Regions from separate parts of the Homo sapiens genome. Here region 1 is linked to region 2. Evidence: fine-mapped expression QTL. A gene starts in region 2. The other region holds a variant in brackets. All regions are shown on one strand. Distances are from middle to middle.

Region 1 (8,350 bases), 38 kb after region 2:
TTCAAACCAGGAAACTGTTATAGTTCAATAGTGGTTAATATTTTGGGTAATATTTTGAGTAATTTTCTGCATTTCTTATATTGCTATCGTTTCATTTTATTTCCAGCAAAATGTATTGCATTAGAATGTGGGAGAATTCAACTGAGTTGCTGATTGGATTTTCAAACTCATCGCAGAAATCACACCTTTGAAAGCCAAAGCTTTCATTTGTAAAACCTAGGCTTTTTAAGAGAATAAAAGTATTCTTGAAAATCAAAAGGAAAAATTCTAAAAAGCAGTACATCAGACTTGTGTCCCAAGCAGGAAATTAGAAACACAGTGGAAGATGATGTAAGAGCTAATTTTTCCTCCATATGTGGAAAACATACATGTACACACACACACACGGATGGAAGATCCGAGATATTAGAAATAAGAAAAGAGATCAAGAAAAATATATTTAGTTGTCCTCTAGAAGGCTCCCATCTTTGTCCTTCTGGATTCAGAGTATAGAAACCATGATTATTTTAAGAAACTCTGAGAGGAGAAAGAGCTGGTGCATTATTTCCTAAAGTGTAGCCCTGGGAGATTGCAAGTCTTTTAAAGAAAGCTATCCAGTATGGTCTTCAAGATAAGGAAGAAGAGATTAAGCAGGAAGGTCCCTGGACAAAACAAAGACTTTCCAAACTGAGAAAATGGGGGTCACAGAAGTGCTTAGAGAAAGCTGGTGGAACTGAAGATGTCTGGTTTTCAAACAAGGAGAATGTAGAGTGTATGGACCAAGGTAACCAGATGCCACTGCAGTATAGCAAGTATCAACAGCTGTGGTAGGCATGTACTGATAAGAAGGGAAAAGGAGAATATGTCCAGATGAGGACAAAAAGTGTCTATGAAGCCAGACACCTGATGCGCCAACTATATCTCATCAGTCTGGAAGCCTTACCTCTGAAACTTCTATTACTTTTGCTGAGCAAAAATATATGGTGAGTCCTAACTTTGTCTAATCATTTATTCAAAAAGAGAGTTGTTTGAACATTTAACTATAGAAAATATGAAATCTGTATCTGTTAAGTTAAAGCTATATCCTCTGGATGTGAATCTGAAGATTAAAATTTATACTTTCTAGGTATAAGAAGATTATCTGAAATAAATATATAGTGAAAAATTTAATGTTTTCTTTCTGGGTTTCCCATTTATTCTCCATCATAGACTGGGTTCTTTATATCAGTAGAAATAGGCATACAATATGCATACAAAGAGAAATGTCCTAATAAAGTAAATGGAAGGTGCATGAAAGAGAAATTCTGGAAGACAAATCAATAATATCTAGCTTGGATATTAGAGTCACATGGTCAGAACTGATTCCAGACTTCCAACTTACTAGTAACTTTGTGTTTTCTCATCCATAATTTGTGAATAATATCTACCTAGCAGCACTGTATGTATGAGATTAAATAATGAGATATATGTAAAGCATGTAAACTAGGGTCTGACACATAGCAAATGCTCAATTTTCTTATTCTTAATCTTACTGTTCTTGTCATTTATTATTTTACGAATTGCTATTTGTAGAACTTAATGTTTTACATTCTGATCTATGATTCTTATGGTCGGAATAATCCACAATAGTATAAATCTTGGTCTATGTTGAGAATTTCTTCATACAAACATAATTATGTAGCTCTTATACAGGCCAAACCTGCATTCATTTCTATTAGTTATATGCTAGAGGTAATGAATTTTTATTATTTATTTATGTATGTAGACACATTCTATTACCACTCTTTACCAACTGCCATTATTTTGGCTTAGGAGAAAATGATCTTGAAAACAGGTCTATGTAGTTTTAACAGCTCTTTTGTGAACTTCGGATGTAACTGAATCATTTTCTAGATTTATCTGTTAAATAAATGGTCCATGAAAGTATGTATGGGTAGATAATTGATGGAAGCAAATAATCCTATTGAAACATTTGCTATTTATTTTTGATACAGTTCTTTTAAACAGACTGATTAGTTCCCTTTATGATTTCACCCTCGAAAGCACACACGATTTTGTTCTTTATCATTGTTGCATGACATTCCATTTGGCAGTTGGGCTTATTTTTAGCCAGACTATCAAAGTATTTTTCAACTGGACTGTCACTGCACTTGAACTTGGAATCTTATAACTTGAAGAACTGCCCTGGAGAAAGGAAGAAACTTATAATAAATGGGAAATTATAAATCTAGACCAACCCAAACTTGTACTGGTAATTATTCTAATTATTCTTATTTCCTTAAGTGTAATATGGTTCAATTATAGTTACTGATAACTAACAACTCATTGGAATATGTGTTAATTTGTATACGGAAGATAAGGCAGCATGTTTTGTGAAAGTCTTTGAAAAACTATCTGAACTCAAATTATTTTTTTCTGAAGATCTTTATAGGAAACAAGAAATTTCTTACAAAAATATTATTTTAGTTCCTTGGTATAATGTTACAGAAAAAAATTTGGAATATTGCTGAATGTAGGGATTTTAGAATTATATCTTAAGTATCTAGTATTTAAAAACTAAAAACCGTCTTGCAACTAGAGATTGCTATAATTAAAATGCAATAAAATCAAATGAAATAAGTCAAATATATTTTTCTATGTAAATATATTATCCAATATCGAATGGGTTCTTCATTACTACAATTCAATATGATTGCATTTTAAATATAAACATCTGCATTTTAAACACACAATCAGTAATTTAAATTAAGTATTGTAGAATCTAGAATAAAAAACAGTTTTGATTACTTGTATGTTATGATCTGTGTCTACATTTTGCAAAACACAACTATGAATCAATCTCATTTGTTCTTCTTTACTAGATGAATGGAAGAAAAAAGTCAGTGAATCATATGTTATCACAATAGAAAGATTAGAAGATGACCTGCAGATCAAGGAAAAAGAACTGACAGAACTAAGGAATATATTTGGGTAAAGTTGTAAGAGTCATTATTTCTTTGTATAAGTGTCTTCAGTATTCACCTTATTTTTTAAAGTATCTGTATATTTTTTAAACCCGTAGAACCTCAGACATAAGCAGTCATGTTCTAAGCCTTAGGATGTCAGATTATCTCTCTTTGACCACTCATATAGCTCTCAAAATGCAAACATAACATCTCACCTCCTTAAAATATAAATTGTAATCTGCCATCATTAAAGTTTAAAAATAAAAACCTAAAGGCTAGCCTTTGAATGCAAGCTATTGTTGATCTCAGTAATCTTCTCAGGAATTAGATCATTCTTGTAAACCATGCCGGCAATGAAAAGCAAGATTTTTCTTCCCACATAGTGGTCGCATATTGGCCACATTGTTCTCTTTGAACTATGACGGTAAGTCCAATTTTAACAAACCCTCTGGTCTCTTGACATTGAAAGGCTGTCCCTTAATGGAACTGAGTATCATTCTGCCCCTGAACAATCATATAACAACATATAATATTGCCTTCAGGATTTCAGTAGATTTTGTTCCATGATAACAAGAGAAAAATAATCTAAGTGTCACAACCTTGGAAGACACAAAATGTTCAGAAAAGAGGAGCAAGACCCTTATATACACAAAAAGCCTTCTGGTTAAATTGAATCTGACATTGAGAAACTAGATGCCCATTAGAGGGTCAAGAAAGTTACCTGCCTGACTAAGGAAAAGTTCCATATAGGCCAATTAGCCATGTTCATTTATAGCTGTGTTATGTAATGCACTCATGGCAAAGAACTCCCTCTATTTTACTTAGAAAACAAGTGTAAAGCAATGACCAAATGACACATCTTTAAAATAAAATTTTAGATATAGTAAACATATAAATATCACATAATTGGCAAATAAAATCACCCATGTATAATATAGTTTATATGAAATTCGTCAATGGATGTAACAAGGCTTTCACAAGTGTTCAACTTATGGTTCAAAAAGTAGTTGGTTCTCTTTATAGTTTGGCCCAGGATGATGAACTCAACACTGACACTTGTGATGAGATACCACTGATCTGACTTTTGCAAGTAGTATCACATGTTGAGATATGGAACTACATTTGAAATTCCTGTAGAAATATGACTGGCATGTTAGTACAGTAGAATTATAAATATGTATTTGTTTTGTTGGAAAAGTATGAATATAGAAATTAATCATAAACATCTAGCTCTTATTGACTTAAATAAATATGCTAAATGAAATATGATTACATTGAAGAGATTTTCCTCAACTTTTAAAGGTCAAAGCCTCAGTTATTTAGTATTATTTTTTAATTTAGAAAGTATTGAGCACATAGGTGAAGGCTAGCTTAAACTAGATGTATCCAAACCTGAATATTAGGATTAACAATGGATTTAAAATGTAGGTTCTTTCTGATACCACATCGACAACTACAAGCTGTTTTGACAACTGCTATAATGGACTTTTCCTGTGTTTCTACTAAATGCAACAAATGTGACCTTCTTTTTTCTGATTAGCATTGGGGGTGAGATGCAGGAATCTGTGTCAGGGAGCTTACAGTCCAGAATTTGTTGAGTGCCAGCTCGTATTCAAGTGTTGTTCTGGATACATCAAATACAAGACATTATTTAATCTATAGTCATATGTAGATTGTTGTCATTTCATGTGTGCCGAATAATATTAACTCCGGTGGATGATAAACTAAGGATTAGAGACAAGGCAGTGGGAGTTGTCAAGTCACATGGTCAGTAAATTCTGGAATGTGATTTGTGTCAAGGTCTGCCTGACTCCATAGATAGCGCTCTTCCTACCATACCCTGCTTACAAAAACAAGATTTAGGTCCTGATTTATTCATTGATTTTTG[G/C]AATCATTGTAGATAAAAAGCATAGTTAAGTAAAGGTGTGTAGGCAAGAATGAATGAGTACCATAGAAAGTTTAGGAAAAGTGAGAAAAAATAATGTCTTCACCATATTATCTGACTTGAGTAAGAAAGCTATGTGAATCAATGTAAGAATTTTGGAGTCATACAAACATGGTTTTAAATACAGCTTCTTCTATTTATAAGCTGTATATCCATGGATATGTTTTTTAATCTCCTTAATCCTCATTTTCATCTATAAAATGAGGTGAATAATAATCACCTCACAGGATATTTTCAAAATGAGGTAAATTAAATACTAAGTACAGGGCCCAACCCATAGTAAGCATTGAGTAGTTGGAAATTTCTATTATCATGATTGATTGGATAAATAAGGACAGTTTGAAGGATAGAAGACTTATCATAAAGTGAGAGTAACAAATAGCTTATTAAAAGTTAGAAAGAGTGAAAGTTTTTATGAAGAGGATGATTTCAAAATTAAAAATGTAAAGTATTAGCACAATTTAGGAAGATGCCGAAATCTGAAATATAGCTTTTAATGATTTTGATTGAAAGGGATTTGAAGAATTTTGAGACTAGAGTATTAGAAGGCTAATCAAAATGGCTATCAAATTTACTGAGGATAATGGTGAGACATTTTTGGAGAGAAAGACCAATAGCCTGATGCTGATGACATTAAAGAAGCTACAGAATGTGATGATAAGGAAGCTGAGGAGAGGATTATCCAGTCTAGAATGATGTTTCTGCAAGAACTAGGGGCCTCTTATGTTAATGGAGATGGAGACTGTAGTACTTGCTAAAATTTTCGATTCCATGACTCCACCCTTTATCATGTGAATCAGAATCTCTGGAGATGTCTTCCAATAACCTGAATGTTTAACAAGCTCCCCAGATAAAACTATGCATAATAAAAATGATACTTCTAAAGTTTGAAAACTATACTTCTAGAAAGATATCCAAATTGCACTGAGAACTCTTTGCCTGAGGTGATATTAGTGAAGGGATGAGGAATATGGGAACAGAAAGTAAGCAACTGGTGTGGTCTAAAGAGAGTCAAGAGAATCAAAAACAAGCAAGCAAAAACAGAATAATCTGCTTTTGTCTGATTTCGTCAAGGTAGAGAGCATAATCTGGGAGAAAAAAGTGAATTGCTTCCAGGGCAGAGTTCTAAGGATTTTCTTTTCTTTGGAATAAAATGATGGATGAAAGAAAGAAAAGAATAGTGTGCTGAGAATGTAAATTGTCTTACTCACTCATTCACAAAATTTTAAAGGTAGTTGGGAAGATCAAACCTAACACTGTATGAAATGACATTTAAATGAGTATCTAGAGCATTATAGGTGCTAAATAAATGTTAGAATCTCATTACTCACCCTTATTCATTTGTCTTATAAAGAGCATTCCTGTGATAAACAATTATGTTATGTTGCCTGACATCAGCCTTTCTCTAAACATTTAGATAGCAAGGAGACTGTATACAATGCCCAAAAAGGAACATTTAAACTAGCATGAAACGTAAAGGATCACTGATGTAAACAGTTTTTCATTTGCTAACCAATTTCTTTATGGCATTCCCGGTAGATGCTAATTTCATTCATTATAAGAGATTTTTCACCACATAATACACCATTGCTCTATCAGCTCGAATACACAATCTTCCTGGCATAGCTTTTACCCACAACATAATAAACAGCAATATAGTGCTAAATGTAAGACAGAAAGAGCTAAATAGTTATCCTGCTTATGCCAATTTATAGCAGCTTTGGAATGGGAGCTTGATGTGGGAGAGAGGGGAAATGGAAATGGAATGTTCTTTCATCTTCTGCTATAAAGTTGCATTCACTCATAACTTTGGACATTTGTTTAGGTAATGGATTGGTGACAGGAAGAAATGAAGAAAAAGAGAAGGCAGGAGGAGAAAGAAAGACAGAAAGGGCACCTTAGAGTACCATTGTCTGATTATATCCTCCTCTGTGCTGCCTCTAATCTTTATCAACATAACAGCACTTACTACATGGTGTTGTTTTTATCCATTTATAGGTCTATCTCCCCACTAGTATATGTGTTCATTAAAGGCAGCTTTTTTTCTTATTTAGCCTTATTTATATTTGTACTTATTTGTAAAACAAACTAATAACTTAGGGCTTACCATATGCCAGAAATGCTTCTACGTATCTTTTTGTGCATCAGCTTATATAATCCTAATGGTGTATATGTAAAGTGCTTTAGCACAGTGTCTGGCACATGGCAAACCCTCAAAAATGTTAGTTAACACTTAATCATTATTGTTTATGTTAACAACCCTCTGAAGTAAGTGTTGCAATTGCCATGTTATACCTGGAGAAAATGAGGCTAATCAAATTAAACTGGCTTGAACTAGATTAAACAATTTGTATGATTTACCTAGGATTGCATCCATCTTTATTTGATTTCAAAATGTATCATATTCATAATCTTGGTTATGAATATTATACAACCTTTTTGAAAAAACTATGGAAGTGATGGCTCTCCACATGTGACTTCAAATGTTTTCAATTAAATTATTTTGTTTCAATAGTTTTTATCATAATAAATTTTAAGACTATGTTTTGCTAATTTCATTGTCAAGCCAAATTTGTATCTGCTTAATCTATAATATGAAATTTAAAACCATGAGAATACTCCAGAAAAGTTATAATTTTTCTTTTTCTTTTTCTTTTTTTTTTTATTATACTTTAAGTTTTAGGGTACATGTGCACAACATGCAGGTTAGTTACATATGTATACATGTGCCATGTTGGTGTGCTGCACCCATTAACTCGTCATTTAACATTAGGTATATCTCCTAATGCTATCCCTCCCCCTCCCCACACCCCACAACAGGCCCCCGTGTGTGATGTTCCCCTTCCTGTGTCCATGTACTCAATTCCCACCTGTGAGTGAGGACATGCGGTGTTTGGTTTTTTGTCCTTGCAATAGTTTGCTGAGAATGATGGTTTCCAGCTTCAACCATGTCCCTACAAAGGACATGAAGTCATCATTTTTTATGGCTGCATAGTATTCCATGGTGTATATGTGCCACATTTTCTTAATCCAGTCTATCATTGTTGGACATTTGGGTTGGTGCTTAGTTCCAAGTCTTTGCTATTGTGAATAGTGCTGCAATAAACATACATGTGCATGTGACTTTATAGCAGCATGTTTTATAATCCTTTGGGTATATACCCAGTAATGGGATGGCTGAGTCAAATGGTATTTCTAGTTCTAGATCCCTGAGGAATCATCACACTGACTTCCACAATGGTTGAACTAGTTTACAGTCCCACCAATGGTGTAAAAGTGTTCCTATTTCTTCACATCCTCTCCAGCACCTGTTGTTTCCTGACTTTTTAATGACTGCCATTCTAACTGGTGTGAGATGGTATCTCATTGTGGTTTTGATTTGCATTTCTCTGATGGCCAGTGATGATGAGCATTTTTTCATGTGTCTTTTGGCTGCATAAATGTCTTCTTTTGAGAAGTATCTGTTCATATCCTTTGCCCA
Region 2 (8,350 bases):
TGAGGGGTGTGAGGGTTCCTCCAACAGGGCATAGTGAGAAAAAAAATATTTAAGAAATAAATTGAGAACAGGCTAGCTGAGTAAATAAATCGAAATAAAACAAACTGCAAAAAGACAATTTTTGCTTTCGTTGCATGTCAGGAAGGGTAACAGGAGGAAACAGTGGTTAAACAGAGCCATGAAGCACAAGGACTGGAAACAAGTACAGCCCTAGCTTGGCCTGACCACAGCATGCACTACGAGCTCCACAGTATATAATCCAGGACCCTATTCATTTGGCTTCAACTTCCTCATATAAAGAAGGGGGGAAAATTAAAACATTCTTCTCTATAATTTCCACACAACAGTCATAGTTATATGCCTGTAGTAATAAAAAAACAGTGTAACTGGCATTAACTGTAAATGGGTTGGAAGACATTTTAATGGGGGGATGAAAATGTTCTAAACCTGTACCTCAATAAAGTTGCTTTAAAAAATCTATCTCATTCTTCCTTATGGCAGCTCTTCAGATACTCTCTACTCTCCTCCTGGAAATAAAAAGCCCAAATGCCTCCACAGAATATAATTTTTCAATTTATTATAGTCTAGTATGTTCAACATCTTTTTAAAAATGTGGAATCCAAAACTAAACAGATTATTTCCTGTGTGTTTGATTTGTGCAGAATTAATGGGCTTACAGCTTGGCTGGATTGATATATTTTACTCTGGTAAAATGACATTCTGATAAATACCTGGAAAAACTCTGTGGCGAATTCTCTAGTATAATAATACTCTGGTAGCTTAAGATGTTAAACAGTCATATCACACTGTTTTATTATAGTGAATATGAACTTAAATAAAATCCCTAAACTTTTTTTGCCTCCAACAATCAACTGCCACGGAAATTTACTCCTACTCATATATATAGTATTTTTTAATTTTTTTTTTACTAAAAATTAATATTAATGAAAATTTGAGAAAAGAAAGAAAACAGAAGCCATAGCTGATAATATGGTATATTTATTTCCAGCAAATTTTGATTGCATGATATAGTCATATTGAGAAAAAATAATATCCAATTTCTATGGCCATCCTTCCCAGATCCAAGAAATACTCTAATATTCTGTATGATACCGTCCTAGATCCAATAAATACTCTATTTAATATTCTGTATGATAGAATCTAACACATCACTCTGTTTGTCTCCTCACAATTGTTACCACTGGATTTTTTATTTGGTTACTTCTTCCTTCTTTATTTCACCTTATTAGAATATACAGACCCCAAACATATAGGCTCTGCTGACCTTCACTCCCTTGGGACCTCACTTAGTTCCACAGTTAAAATTAATTCTATCTTCTTGCTGACAATTCCCAAAATTGTATCTCTAGCCCAGACCTCTCTCCTGAATTCTAGACTCGTATGTATAATGCATACAGACACATACACACACAAACTTCCATTACATATTCACTGCATACACATGTCTCTTTATTCCACATGTCCAAAATCAAATTCTGGACCCTATTACCCCAAAAACCTTCCTCAGTCGGAAACTTACCCATCTTAATTGATGGCCAATCCATCCCAAGGCAGTCATTTTGACTCCTCTTTTTCTCTTACAGTCCACACCCATTAATTCCATCAGCACATTTTATTGTTTTTGTCTTAAAAATATATCCAGAATCTGACCAACTTCTCACCATTCCCACTGCTACCATCCTGGTCAAGCCTTCACCAGCTCTCACCTGCAATATTGCAGTAACCTCCAAAGAAGTCTCCCTGCTTCTATCATTGCCTCATCCCCCATTATAATCTATTCTCCTATCTCCGAGTGATCTCTTTAAACATAAGCCAAGTCACTTCAAAACCCTGCAATGGCTTTGTTTCCCTCAAGAGTAAAAACCAAAATTCTTCCTATGGCCCTTTGTTCTCTCTCTGACCTTCTCTCGCTACTTTCTCCTTTGGTTACTTTCACTCAAGTCTCTGTATTTTCTAAATGTTCTTCAATAAGATACTGTTTTTTTAATTAATGAAGTTTTAAATGTAAAACTATGAAAGAGTAATCTAATCTGCCATTTTATCCAAATGTTTCCACTATTAGAACACGATTGTATAACAAGTCTGAGAAGAAAAACTAAGTAAATTTATGACAAGAGTTTATGGTGCCCTGAATGTCTACGTACCTAATGAAGACGTTGATACAGAGAAATCGTCTCAAAAAATCAAACGGTATGGTGAAATACCACAAGTTCTGGGTTTGGGATTGAAATATATTTCTTAAATCTTTTATTACTTACTAATTGTGATACCTTGACTAACTCACTATTCTCTGATTCAGTTTTCTTCTGTGTAAAGATGAAGTGGTCTGTAAAACCAAGAAACCTCGTGTTCTATAACAGGAACACCTTTATATAGCTACCCAAAAAAACACCTAAAAAGGCTGACTTATTCCTAAGAGTGTTATTGAACATTCTAGATTAATCTGCATATACAAAAGAATGCCAGAGAAGAAACCAAAATACCAAAAATATTTGGAGCCTGGTTGCGGACTGAATTTTATACAACTTTCAAAGACACTATTTGAGAGGCTGTCGTGTGTAGCCTACTAAGAAAAAACAGAGGGGTGGGGTGGCTCACTCTCTAGGAACCACAAACTTAAGGTTCCTAGAAAGAGCAGAGATTTTAAATATTCAGACTGTGTATGTATCATGACCCAGGGTTGGGGGCAGATGGCCCGGGGTGGCGGGGGAAAGGAGAGATGGCGGAGATCTTCTATCAGGCTATCCTGGGGAACTGCTCCAGGCTGAAACAAACCACCAGTTAGGACGAACCGCCTTTGATGTGAAAGCTGGGAAGCTAGAATGTAGTTTCGCCTTATCCTTAGCGGGTCGGTTCTAACAATTTTGTCACCCAAACTGAACCACTCACCGGGTCAACTGGGCTGCAAGCCCTTATGAGTTGGAGACAAGTGGCCCAGCCCCAACACAGTCAGACAAATCGCTGGGCGGCCATCTGCTCCTGAGACCGTTGCTAGAGAAACAAGACAACATCCAAGTTCTCCACATCATGGTTTTCCGGGCGCCAGCCAAGGCGCTCCGGGGGCGTGGTTACGTGGGCGACGCACGGAGGGGGCGGGTCAGAAACAACCGGGCGGAGGCGCACCCCAGGGCGCATGCGTGCTGTGCGGCGCGGTCTCAGGGAAGGTGGGGCTATGGCAGCTGCTAGGGACCCTCCGGAAGTATCGCTGCGAGAAGCCACCCAGCGAAAATTGCGGAGGTTTTCCGAGCTAAGAGGTACCAGAGAAGGCACCGGAGTTCTCCTGGGCAATGCAGAGGGAGGGTGCTTTTACGTGCCAGGAGGTTTGCTGGACTGTCACTTCCCGTTTACTTCTCATCTGTAGGCCTATGACGCTCCCCAGGAGTAGCTAGCTAATAATCCTTTTGAGTTTTTTATTCTTTTCACTGTCCCTGCTTGACATGCTTGTTGCTTACTTTATTCTTAGTAGTATAGATATTAAAAATGAGGGCGGAGGAAGAAGAAGAAAATCTTACTAGTGAAGTTATGCATTGATTAGCTCATTAATAAAAGTTGCTTTAAATAAATCTAAAAGATACGAAGCACAGTATTTTGAACTTTATGAGTAGATGCCAGCCCCCTATCTACTTCACGCTTTACATTACGTTCATCTACTTCTGTAATGTAACCGTTTGTTGAGGGAGTAACAGAACATGGAGGAATTATGGATTAAAAATTAAAAGGAAGAAATTTGTTATCAAAAAATTGGCTATGACACTTAATCCCTGTACACCTGTCTAATAAAAGTGATTATATTTGTGTTGCAGTGACTGCTTAAAAAATACTGGGACTAATTCTTGGATAACAGTAAAACTTTCAGGACTATTAGATTCTAGCTGACAAGTTCTGTTTGTTAACTAATTAAAATGCTAAATCATTTTGTTTATCAATAAAGAGATTCCAACTGTCTACTAAAAGTGCACACTGTCTTTTAAAGATGTCATCAGAGAGTTGGGACCTTCTGTTATCCAGAATTTTATGTTATATTCTAACAGCCTATGTAAGTTTGCATGGTTCATCTTAAAGTAATAGAAAATAAAGTACCCACATTTATAAACAGCAACATTGAGGGAAGGGATCTTTGGGTTGTGTCTTTCTTAGTCACCTAACACCAAGTGTCCGTGATACATAAGAATTGATTTGCAAAGCTGGAGATTTGTTTATGTTTATCTCCTCTTCTTATTGAAGAATTGAGGCAATAGTCTTTGGCAAGTTAAAAGTCGCTCTCTTAATCAAGAAACATTATGTCATTCAGAATTTATAATTAAATTGGATTGCAAACCATAAAAGGAGGGAGTGATCTAAAAGAAAAAAAAGGAACTTGTGAACAGTCTTCATTATAACTATTTTGAATCGTATTAATGCACCACTAATTATTCCCTAACTTTCAAAAGCCAAAGATACATTTTGGAAGATGATAATGGATATTACCTTCTTTATCATCTTTCTCAATAGGCAAACCTGTGGCAACTAGAAAATTCTGATAATTTTTGTTTTCATTTCCTTGCTTTTTCCAAATAGGCAAACTTGTAGCACGTGGAGAATTCTGGGACATAGTTGCAATAACAGCGGCTGATGAAAAACAGGAACTTGCTTACAACCAACAGCTGTCAGAAAAGCTGAAAAGAAAGGAGTTACCCCTTGGAGTTCAATATCACGTTTTTGTGGATCCTGCTGGAGCCAAAATTGGTACGCGCTTTATGGTCAGTTTTATAATATAGGTCCTAAGCAGAATAATCATTGAAGAAAAGGTTTCTGTGACTTACAGTGTATAAGCTGCATATCTCTACCCACAGCTTTACAAACTTTAAAATTTGAACATAAATTGACTTTTTTTAGAAAGATAAAAGGAATAGCAACTGTTCTTACCCATTATGACTTACCTTGAAAAACTTCCAGAATGTTACTTAAAAGAAAATTTTATTAGTTTTAATGAAATTCACACTATTCAGATAGGAATACTCCTTTGGACCTTATCAGTAGAACCCTTGAGGTCCTCTCCACTCCAGAGTTCCTCCAGCAATTTACATGAAGAAAGCAATTAGTGGGAAAAAATACTCTTGACCTCTTAGGGACATAATGCAGAATGCAAAAGAACACTGTCACATGGCTTAAATATAATACATATATTTGAAAACCCTAGTTTAGGTCAACTTTGCCCTTTGACCGTCCATTGCAAATAGAAATAAATGCTGTTTTTCTGAATGCTCTTTTCTATGTGATACTTAAAGTTGAAGCCCCCTGATACCAGAGATAAGATATCTGTATATGACATTAATATGACATTAGCATTATTCTAATTAGCCAACATTATTTTAATCCTTACAACTATGAGGTCAGTACTGTTATTATTTCTTTTTTTTTTTTTTTTTTTTTTTTTGAGAAGGAGTCTTGCTCTGTTGCCCAGGCTGGAGTGCAGTGGTGCGATCTTAGCTCACTCCAAGCTCCGCCTCCCAGGTTCAGGCCATTCTCCTGCCTCAGCCTCCCGAGTAGCTGGGACTACAGGTGACTGCCACCAGCCTGGCTAATTTTGTTTTTGTATTTTTTAGTAGAGACGGGGTTTCACCATGTTAGCCAGGACGGTCTGTATCTCCTGACCTCGTGATCCACCTGCCTCGGCCTCCCAAAGTGCTGGGATTACAGGCGTGATATTATTTCCATAGATGAGAATCTGAGGTACTCAAGAGTTAAGTAACTGGCCCAAGATAACTAGTGTGGTAGTTATATTTAAGATTTTTTTTTGGGAATCCAAGTTCTAAAAATCTTTTTTCGAAAGGAACTCTAACTTGTGTTTTTGATTGTGTCATTTGGGAGAATTATTTAAATGGGCTTTGTGATTTGTAACTCTGTATGAATGTTTATATTTATCAGTCTTCTAGTGTTACAGATTGTGTAATTGATTCTTCTTTCTTATAATTACTATTTTGGGGAGAATATTACCTCATCATTTATTACTGAGGGTTGTTGTCTGGGTTTCATTGCTAATTTATTGATTGGTTGTTTGCTATGAGATGTTTTTAATTTTGTTCTATTGCCAATACCTTTGATGTCCATCTATTTACTTATTCCTGAAAGGCAAATCCTTAAGGTTATATAACACCTAAATTTACTGTCATGACAAAGTTTTAGTAGGTTTCTATTAAATAAATTGTGCTTTTTTAACTTTGTTTTTAAGGAAATGGAGGATCAACACTTTGTGCCCTTCAATGTTTGGAAAAGCTATATGGAGATAAATGGAATTCTTTTACCATCTTATTAATTCACTCTGGTAATGTTATACTTTACTAATTTACATTTTCTTTTTAGTCTTCCACCTTTAATACTTTAGAGACTTTTTTCTTTCTTGCAAACACTTTCCTTCTTTTTTAAAAGAATCTTTGAAGTTATTCTGCTTTGAAAACAAATATTTTATGATTTTCATGACTTTTTTTAGGTTGTAAGTAGTATAGTGATTTTCACAAATTTTACTCGTAAAATTGTAGATCACGTATATCGTCAGTCTTTTATGAATATTGTTTTGTTTTGGGTATGTATATAGAAAATTATTTTCCTAAGACAACTCATTCAAATATGAATAGTTCTCGGGAATACTTTAATGGGGATTTTTCTTTTAATTTTAATTTGTATTTTAAGTTCCAGGGTCCATGTGCAGGTTTGTTACATAGGTAAACGTGTGCCATGGTTGGTTGCTGCACCTGTCAACCCATCACCTAGGTATTAAGCCAGCATGCATTAGCTATTTTTCCTAACACTCTTTCTCCCTTAATGGGGATTCTTGCTTTGAGGGAAGGGTGGTTTAACACTGTCATTACTAGACTTTTGCCAGTACTTTTTATCTTGCATTTTTGTGTGATTATTGATAGCCAGAGGCCACAATGCTTAAAAATAAAAGGAAAATGTGACAAGATACAGAGTGGACAAGTAAATATATAAAAGAGAAATCACACACACAAAATAAGACATTTTAAAACAGAAAAGTAGGAAGGACATGGTCTCAGAATGAAGAATAGCTTTTTAAATTGAATACATTTAGTTGTGTGAAAATTTTGGTTACATGAAAACCTTTGTTGTTTTTCTATGTATGTTAAGGGGCTAATGAAAACTGTCATGAACTGACACCAGTCCAGGGACAGGTATTTTAGAATTATTCATCTACATGGCTTCCAAGGCACTTTTTCATTCTTATGATTTACATACAAAACAATGATTCTTTGTAAAGATGATGTCAAAGTAAAGCATCCAAGTTCTGGTTTGAAGCCTAAAAATGTGTAAAACAATCTAATTTACAATTTTATTTAAGAAAATAATTATTATCAGTTTAGTAAAAATTAAATTAGATACCAGGAAATGCATAGTTAGATAATTTTTTTATTTTTATTTTTTGGAAATAGATAATTCTTAGTGCTAAACTTGACTATTGGCTGCTCTTTGAAAAAAGAAAAAAACAGAAACTTATTAGCTCTCTTTTGTTGAACAATGTACTGTGTGCTGCCAAGTGCTTTACAGGTATTATTGATCTTCAGTAATAAATTAACCTTAGCTTACTATAACATTTTTACTTTATAAACTTCTTAATTTTTTTGACTCTCTTGTAATAACATTCAGCTTAAAACACAAACACTGTACAGCTGTACAAAAATATTTTCTTTATATTGTTAGGGTTTATTTTGTTGTTTTTATTTTTACTTTTTAAATATTTTGGTTAGAAATGAAGACACAAACATATTAGCTTAGGCCTACACTGGGTCAGGATCATCAGTATCACTACCTCTATAGTCCTACTAAAGTTCAGGAGCTGTCATCTCCTATGATAACAATGCTGCCTTCTGAAAGACCTCCTGAAGGACCTGCCTGAGGCCATTTTATGCTTAACTTTTTTTTGTATGTATCATATGAATTTATTCTAAAATAACAATGAAAAGTATAGTATAGTAAATACATAAACCAGTAAAATAGTCATTTATTACCAATTATTATATACTATATACATAATTGTATGTTCTGTAGTTTAGTAAACTGGCAGCACAGCAGGTTTGTTTATACCAGCATCACCACTTGAGTGGTGCATCGTGCTAGGACTTTACAATGGCTCCAACATCACTAGGTGATAGGAATTTTTCAGTTCCATTATGATCTTATGGGACAACCTATGTATATGCTGTCCATAATTGAGCGAAATGTTGTAAAGAAGCAAGTATTTTAGCATTAGTATATTAGTTTTCTATAACTTTTATTTTCTGTGAAGTAGATTTTTTTTTTTTTTTGAGATGGAGTCTGGCTCTGTCGCCCAGGC

Alleles and levels. Alleles are on the strand shown, and positions count from the first base shown. SD is a standard deviation of normalised expression in the study named.
For the expression in skeletal muscle of the gene that starts at base 3,157 in region 2, C is the high allele of the variant in region 1 and G is the other (small effect, 0.31 SD a copy in GTEx).

Evidence for each region. PIP is the estimated chance that this variant, and not a neighbour inherited with it, causes the effect.
Region 1: its variant is the best candidate, but not a certain one, in a credible set for the expression of FPGT-TNNI3K in skeletal muscle (GTEx, PIP 0.52).

The regions. Positions count from the first base shown.
Region 1 is chr1:74,233,262-74,241,611 of GRCh38, forward strand. FPGT-TNNI3K (FPGT-TNNI3K readthrough) reads left to right here. Exons shown (of 27, transcript NM_001112808.3): 4 at 2,841-2,949. TNNI3K (TNNI3 interacting kinase) reads left to right here and starts at 2,126. Exons shown (of 25, transcript NM_015978.3): 1 at 2,126-2,230; 2 at 2,841-2,949. The coding sequence starts at 2,191. The variant G/C (reference allele first, on the strand shown) is at 4,813.
Region 2 is chr1:74,195,086-74,203,435 of GRCh38, forward strand. FPGT-TNNI3K (FPGT-TNNI3K readthrough) reads left to right here and starts at 3,157. Exons shown (of 27, transcript NM_001112808.3): 1 at 3,157-3,275; 2 at 4,579-4,746; 3 at 6,233-6,325. The coding sequence starts at 3,194. It overlaps LRRIQ3 (leucine rich repeats and IQ motif containing 3), which reads right to left and starts at 3,091. Exons shown (of 8, transcript NM_001105659.2): 1 at 2,911-3,091. It overlaps FPGT (fucose-1-phosphate guanylyltransferase), which reads left to right and starts at 3,157. Exons shown (of 4, transcript NM_003838.5): 1 at 3,157-3,275; 2 at 4,579-4,746; 3 at 6,233-6,325. The coding sequence starts at 3,194. RefSeq lists a silencer at 2,995-3,094.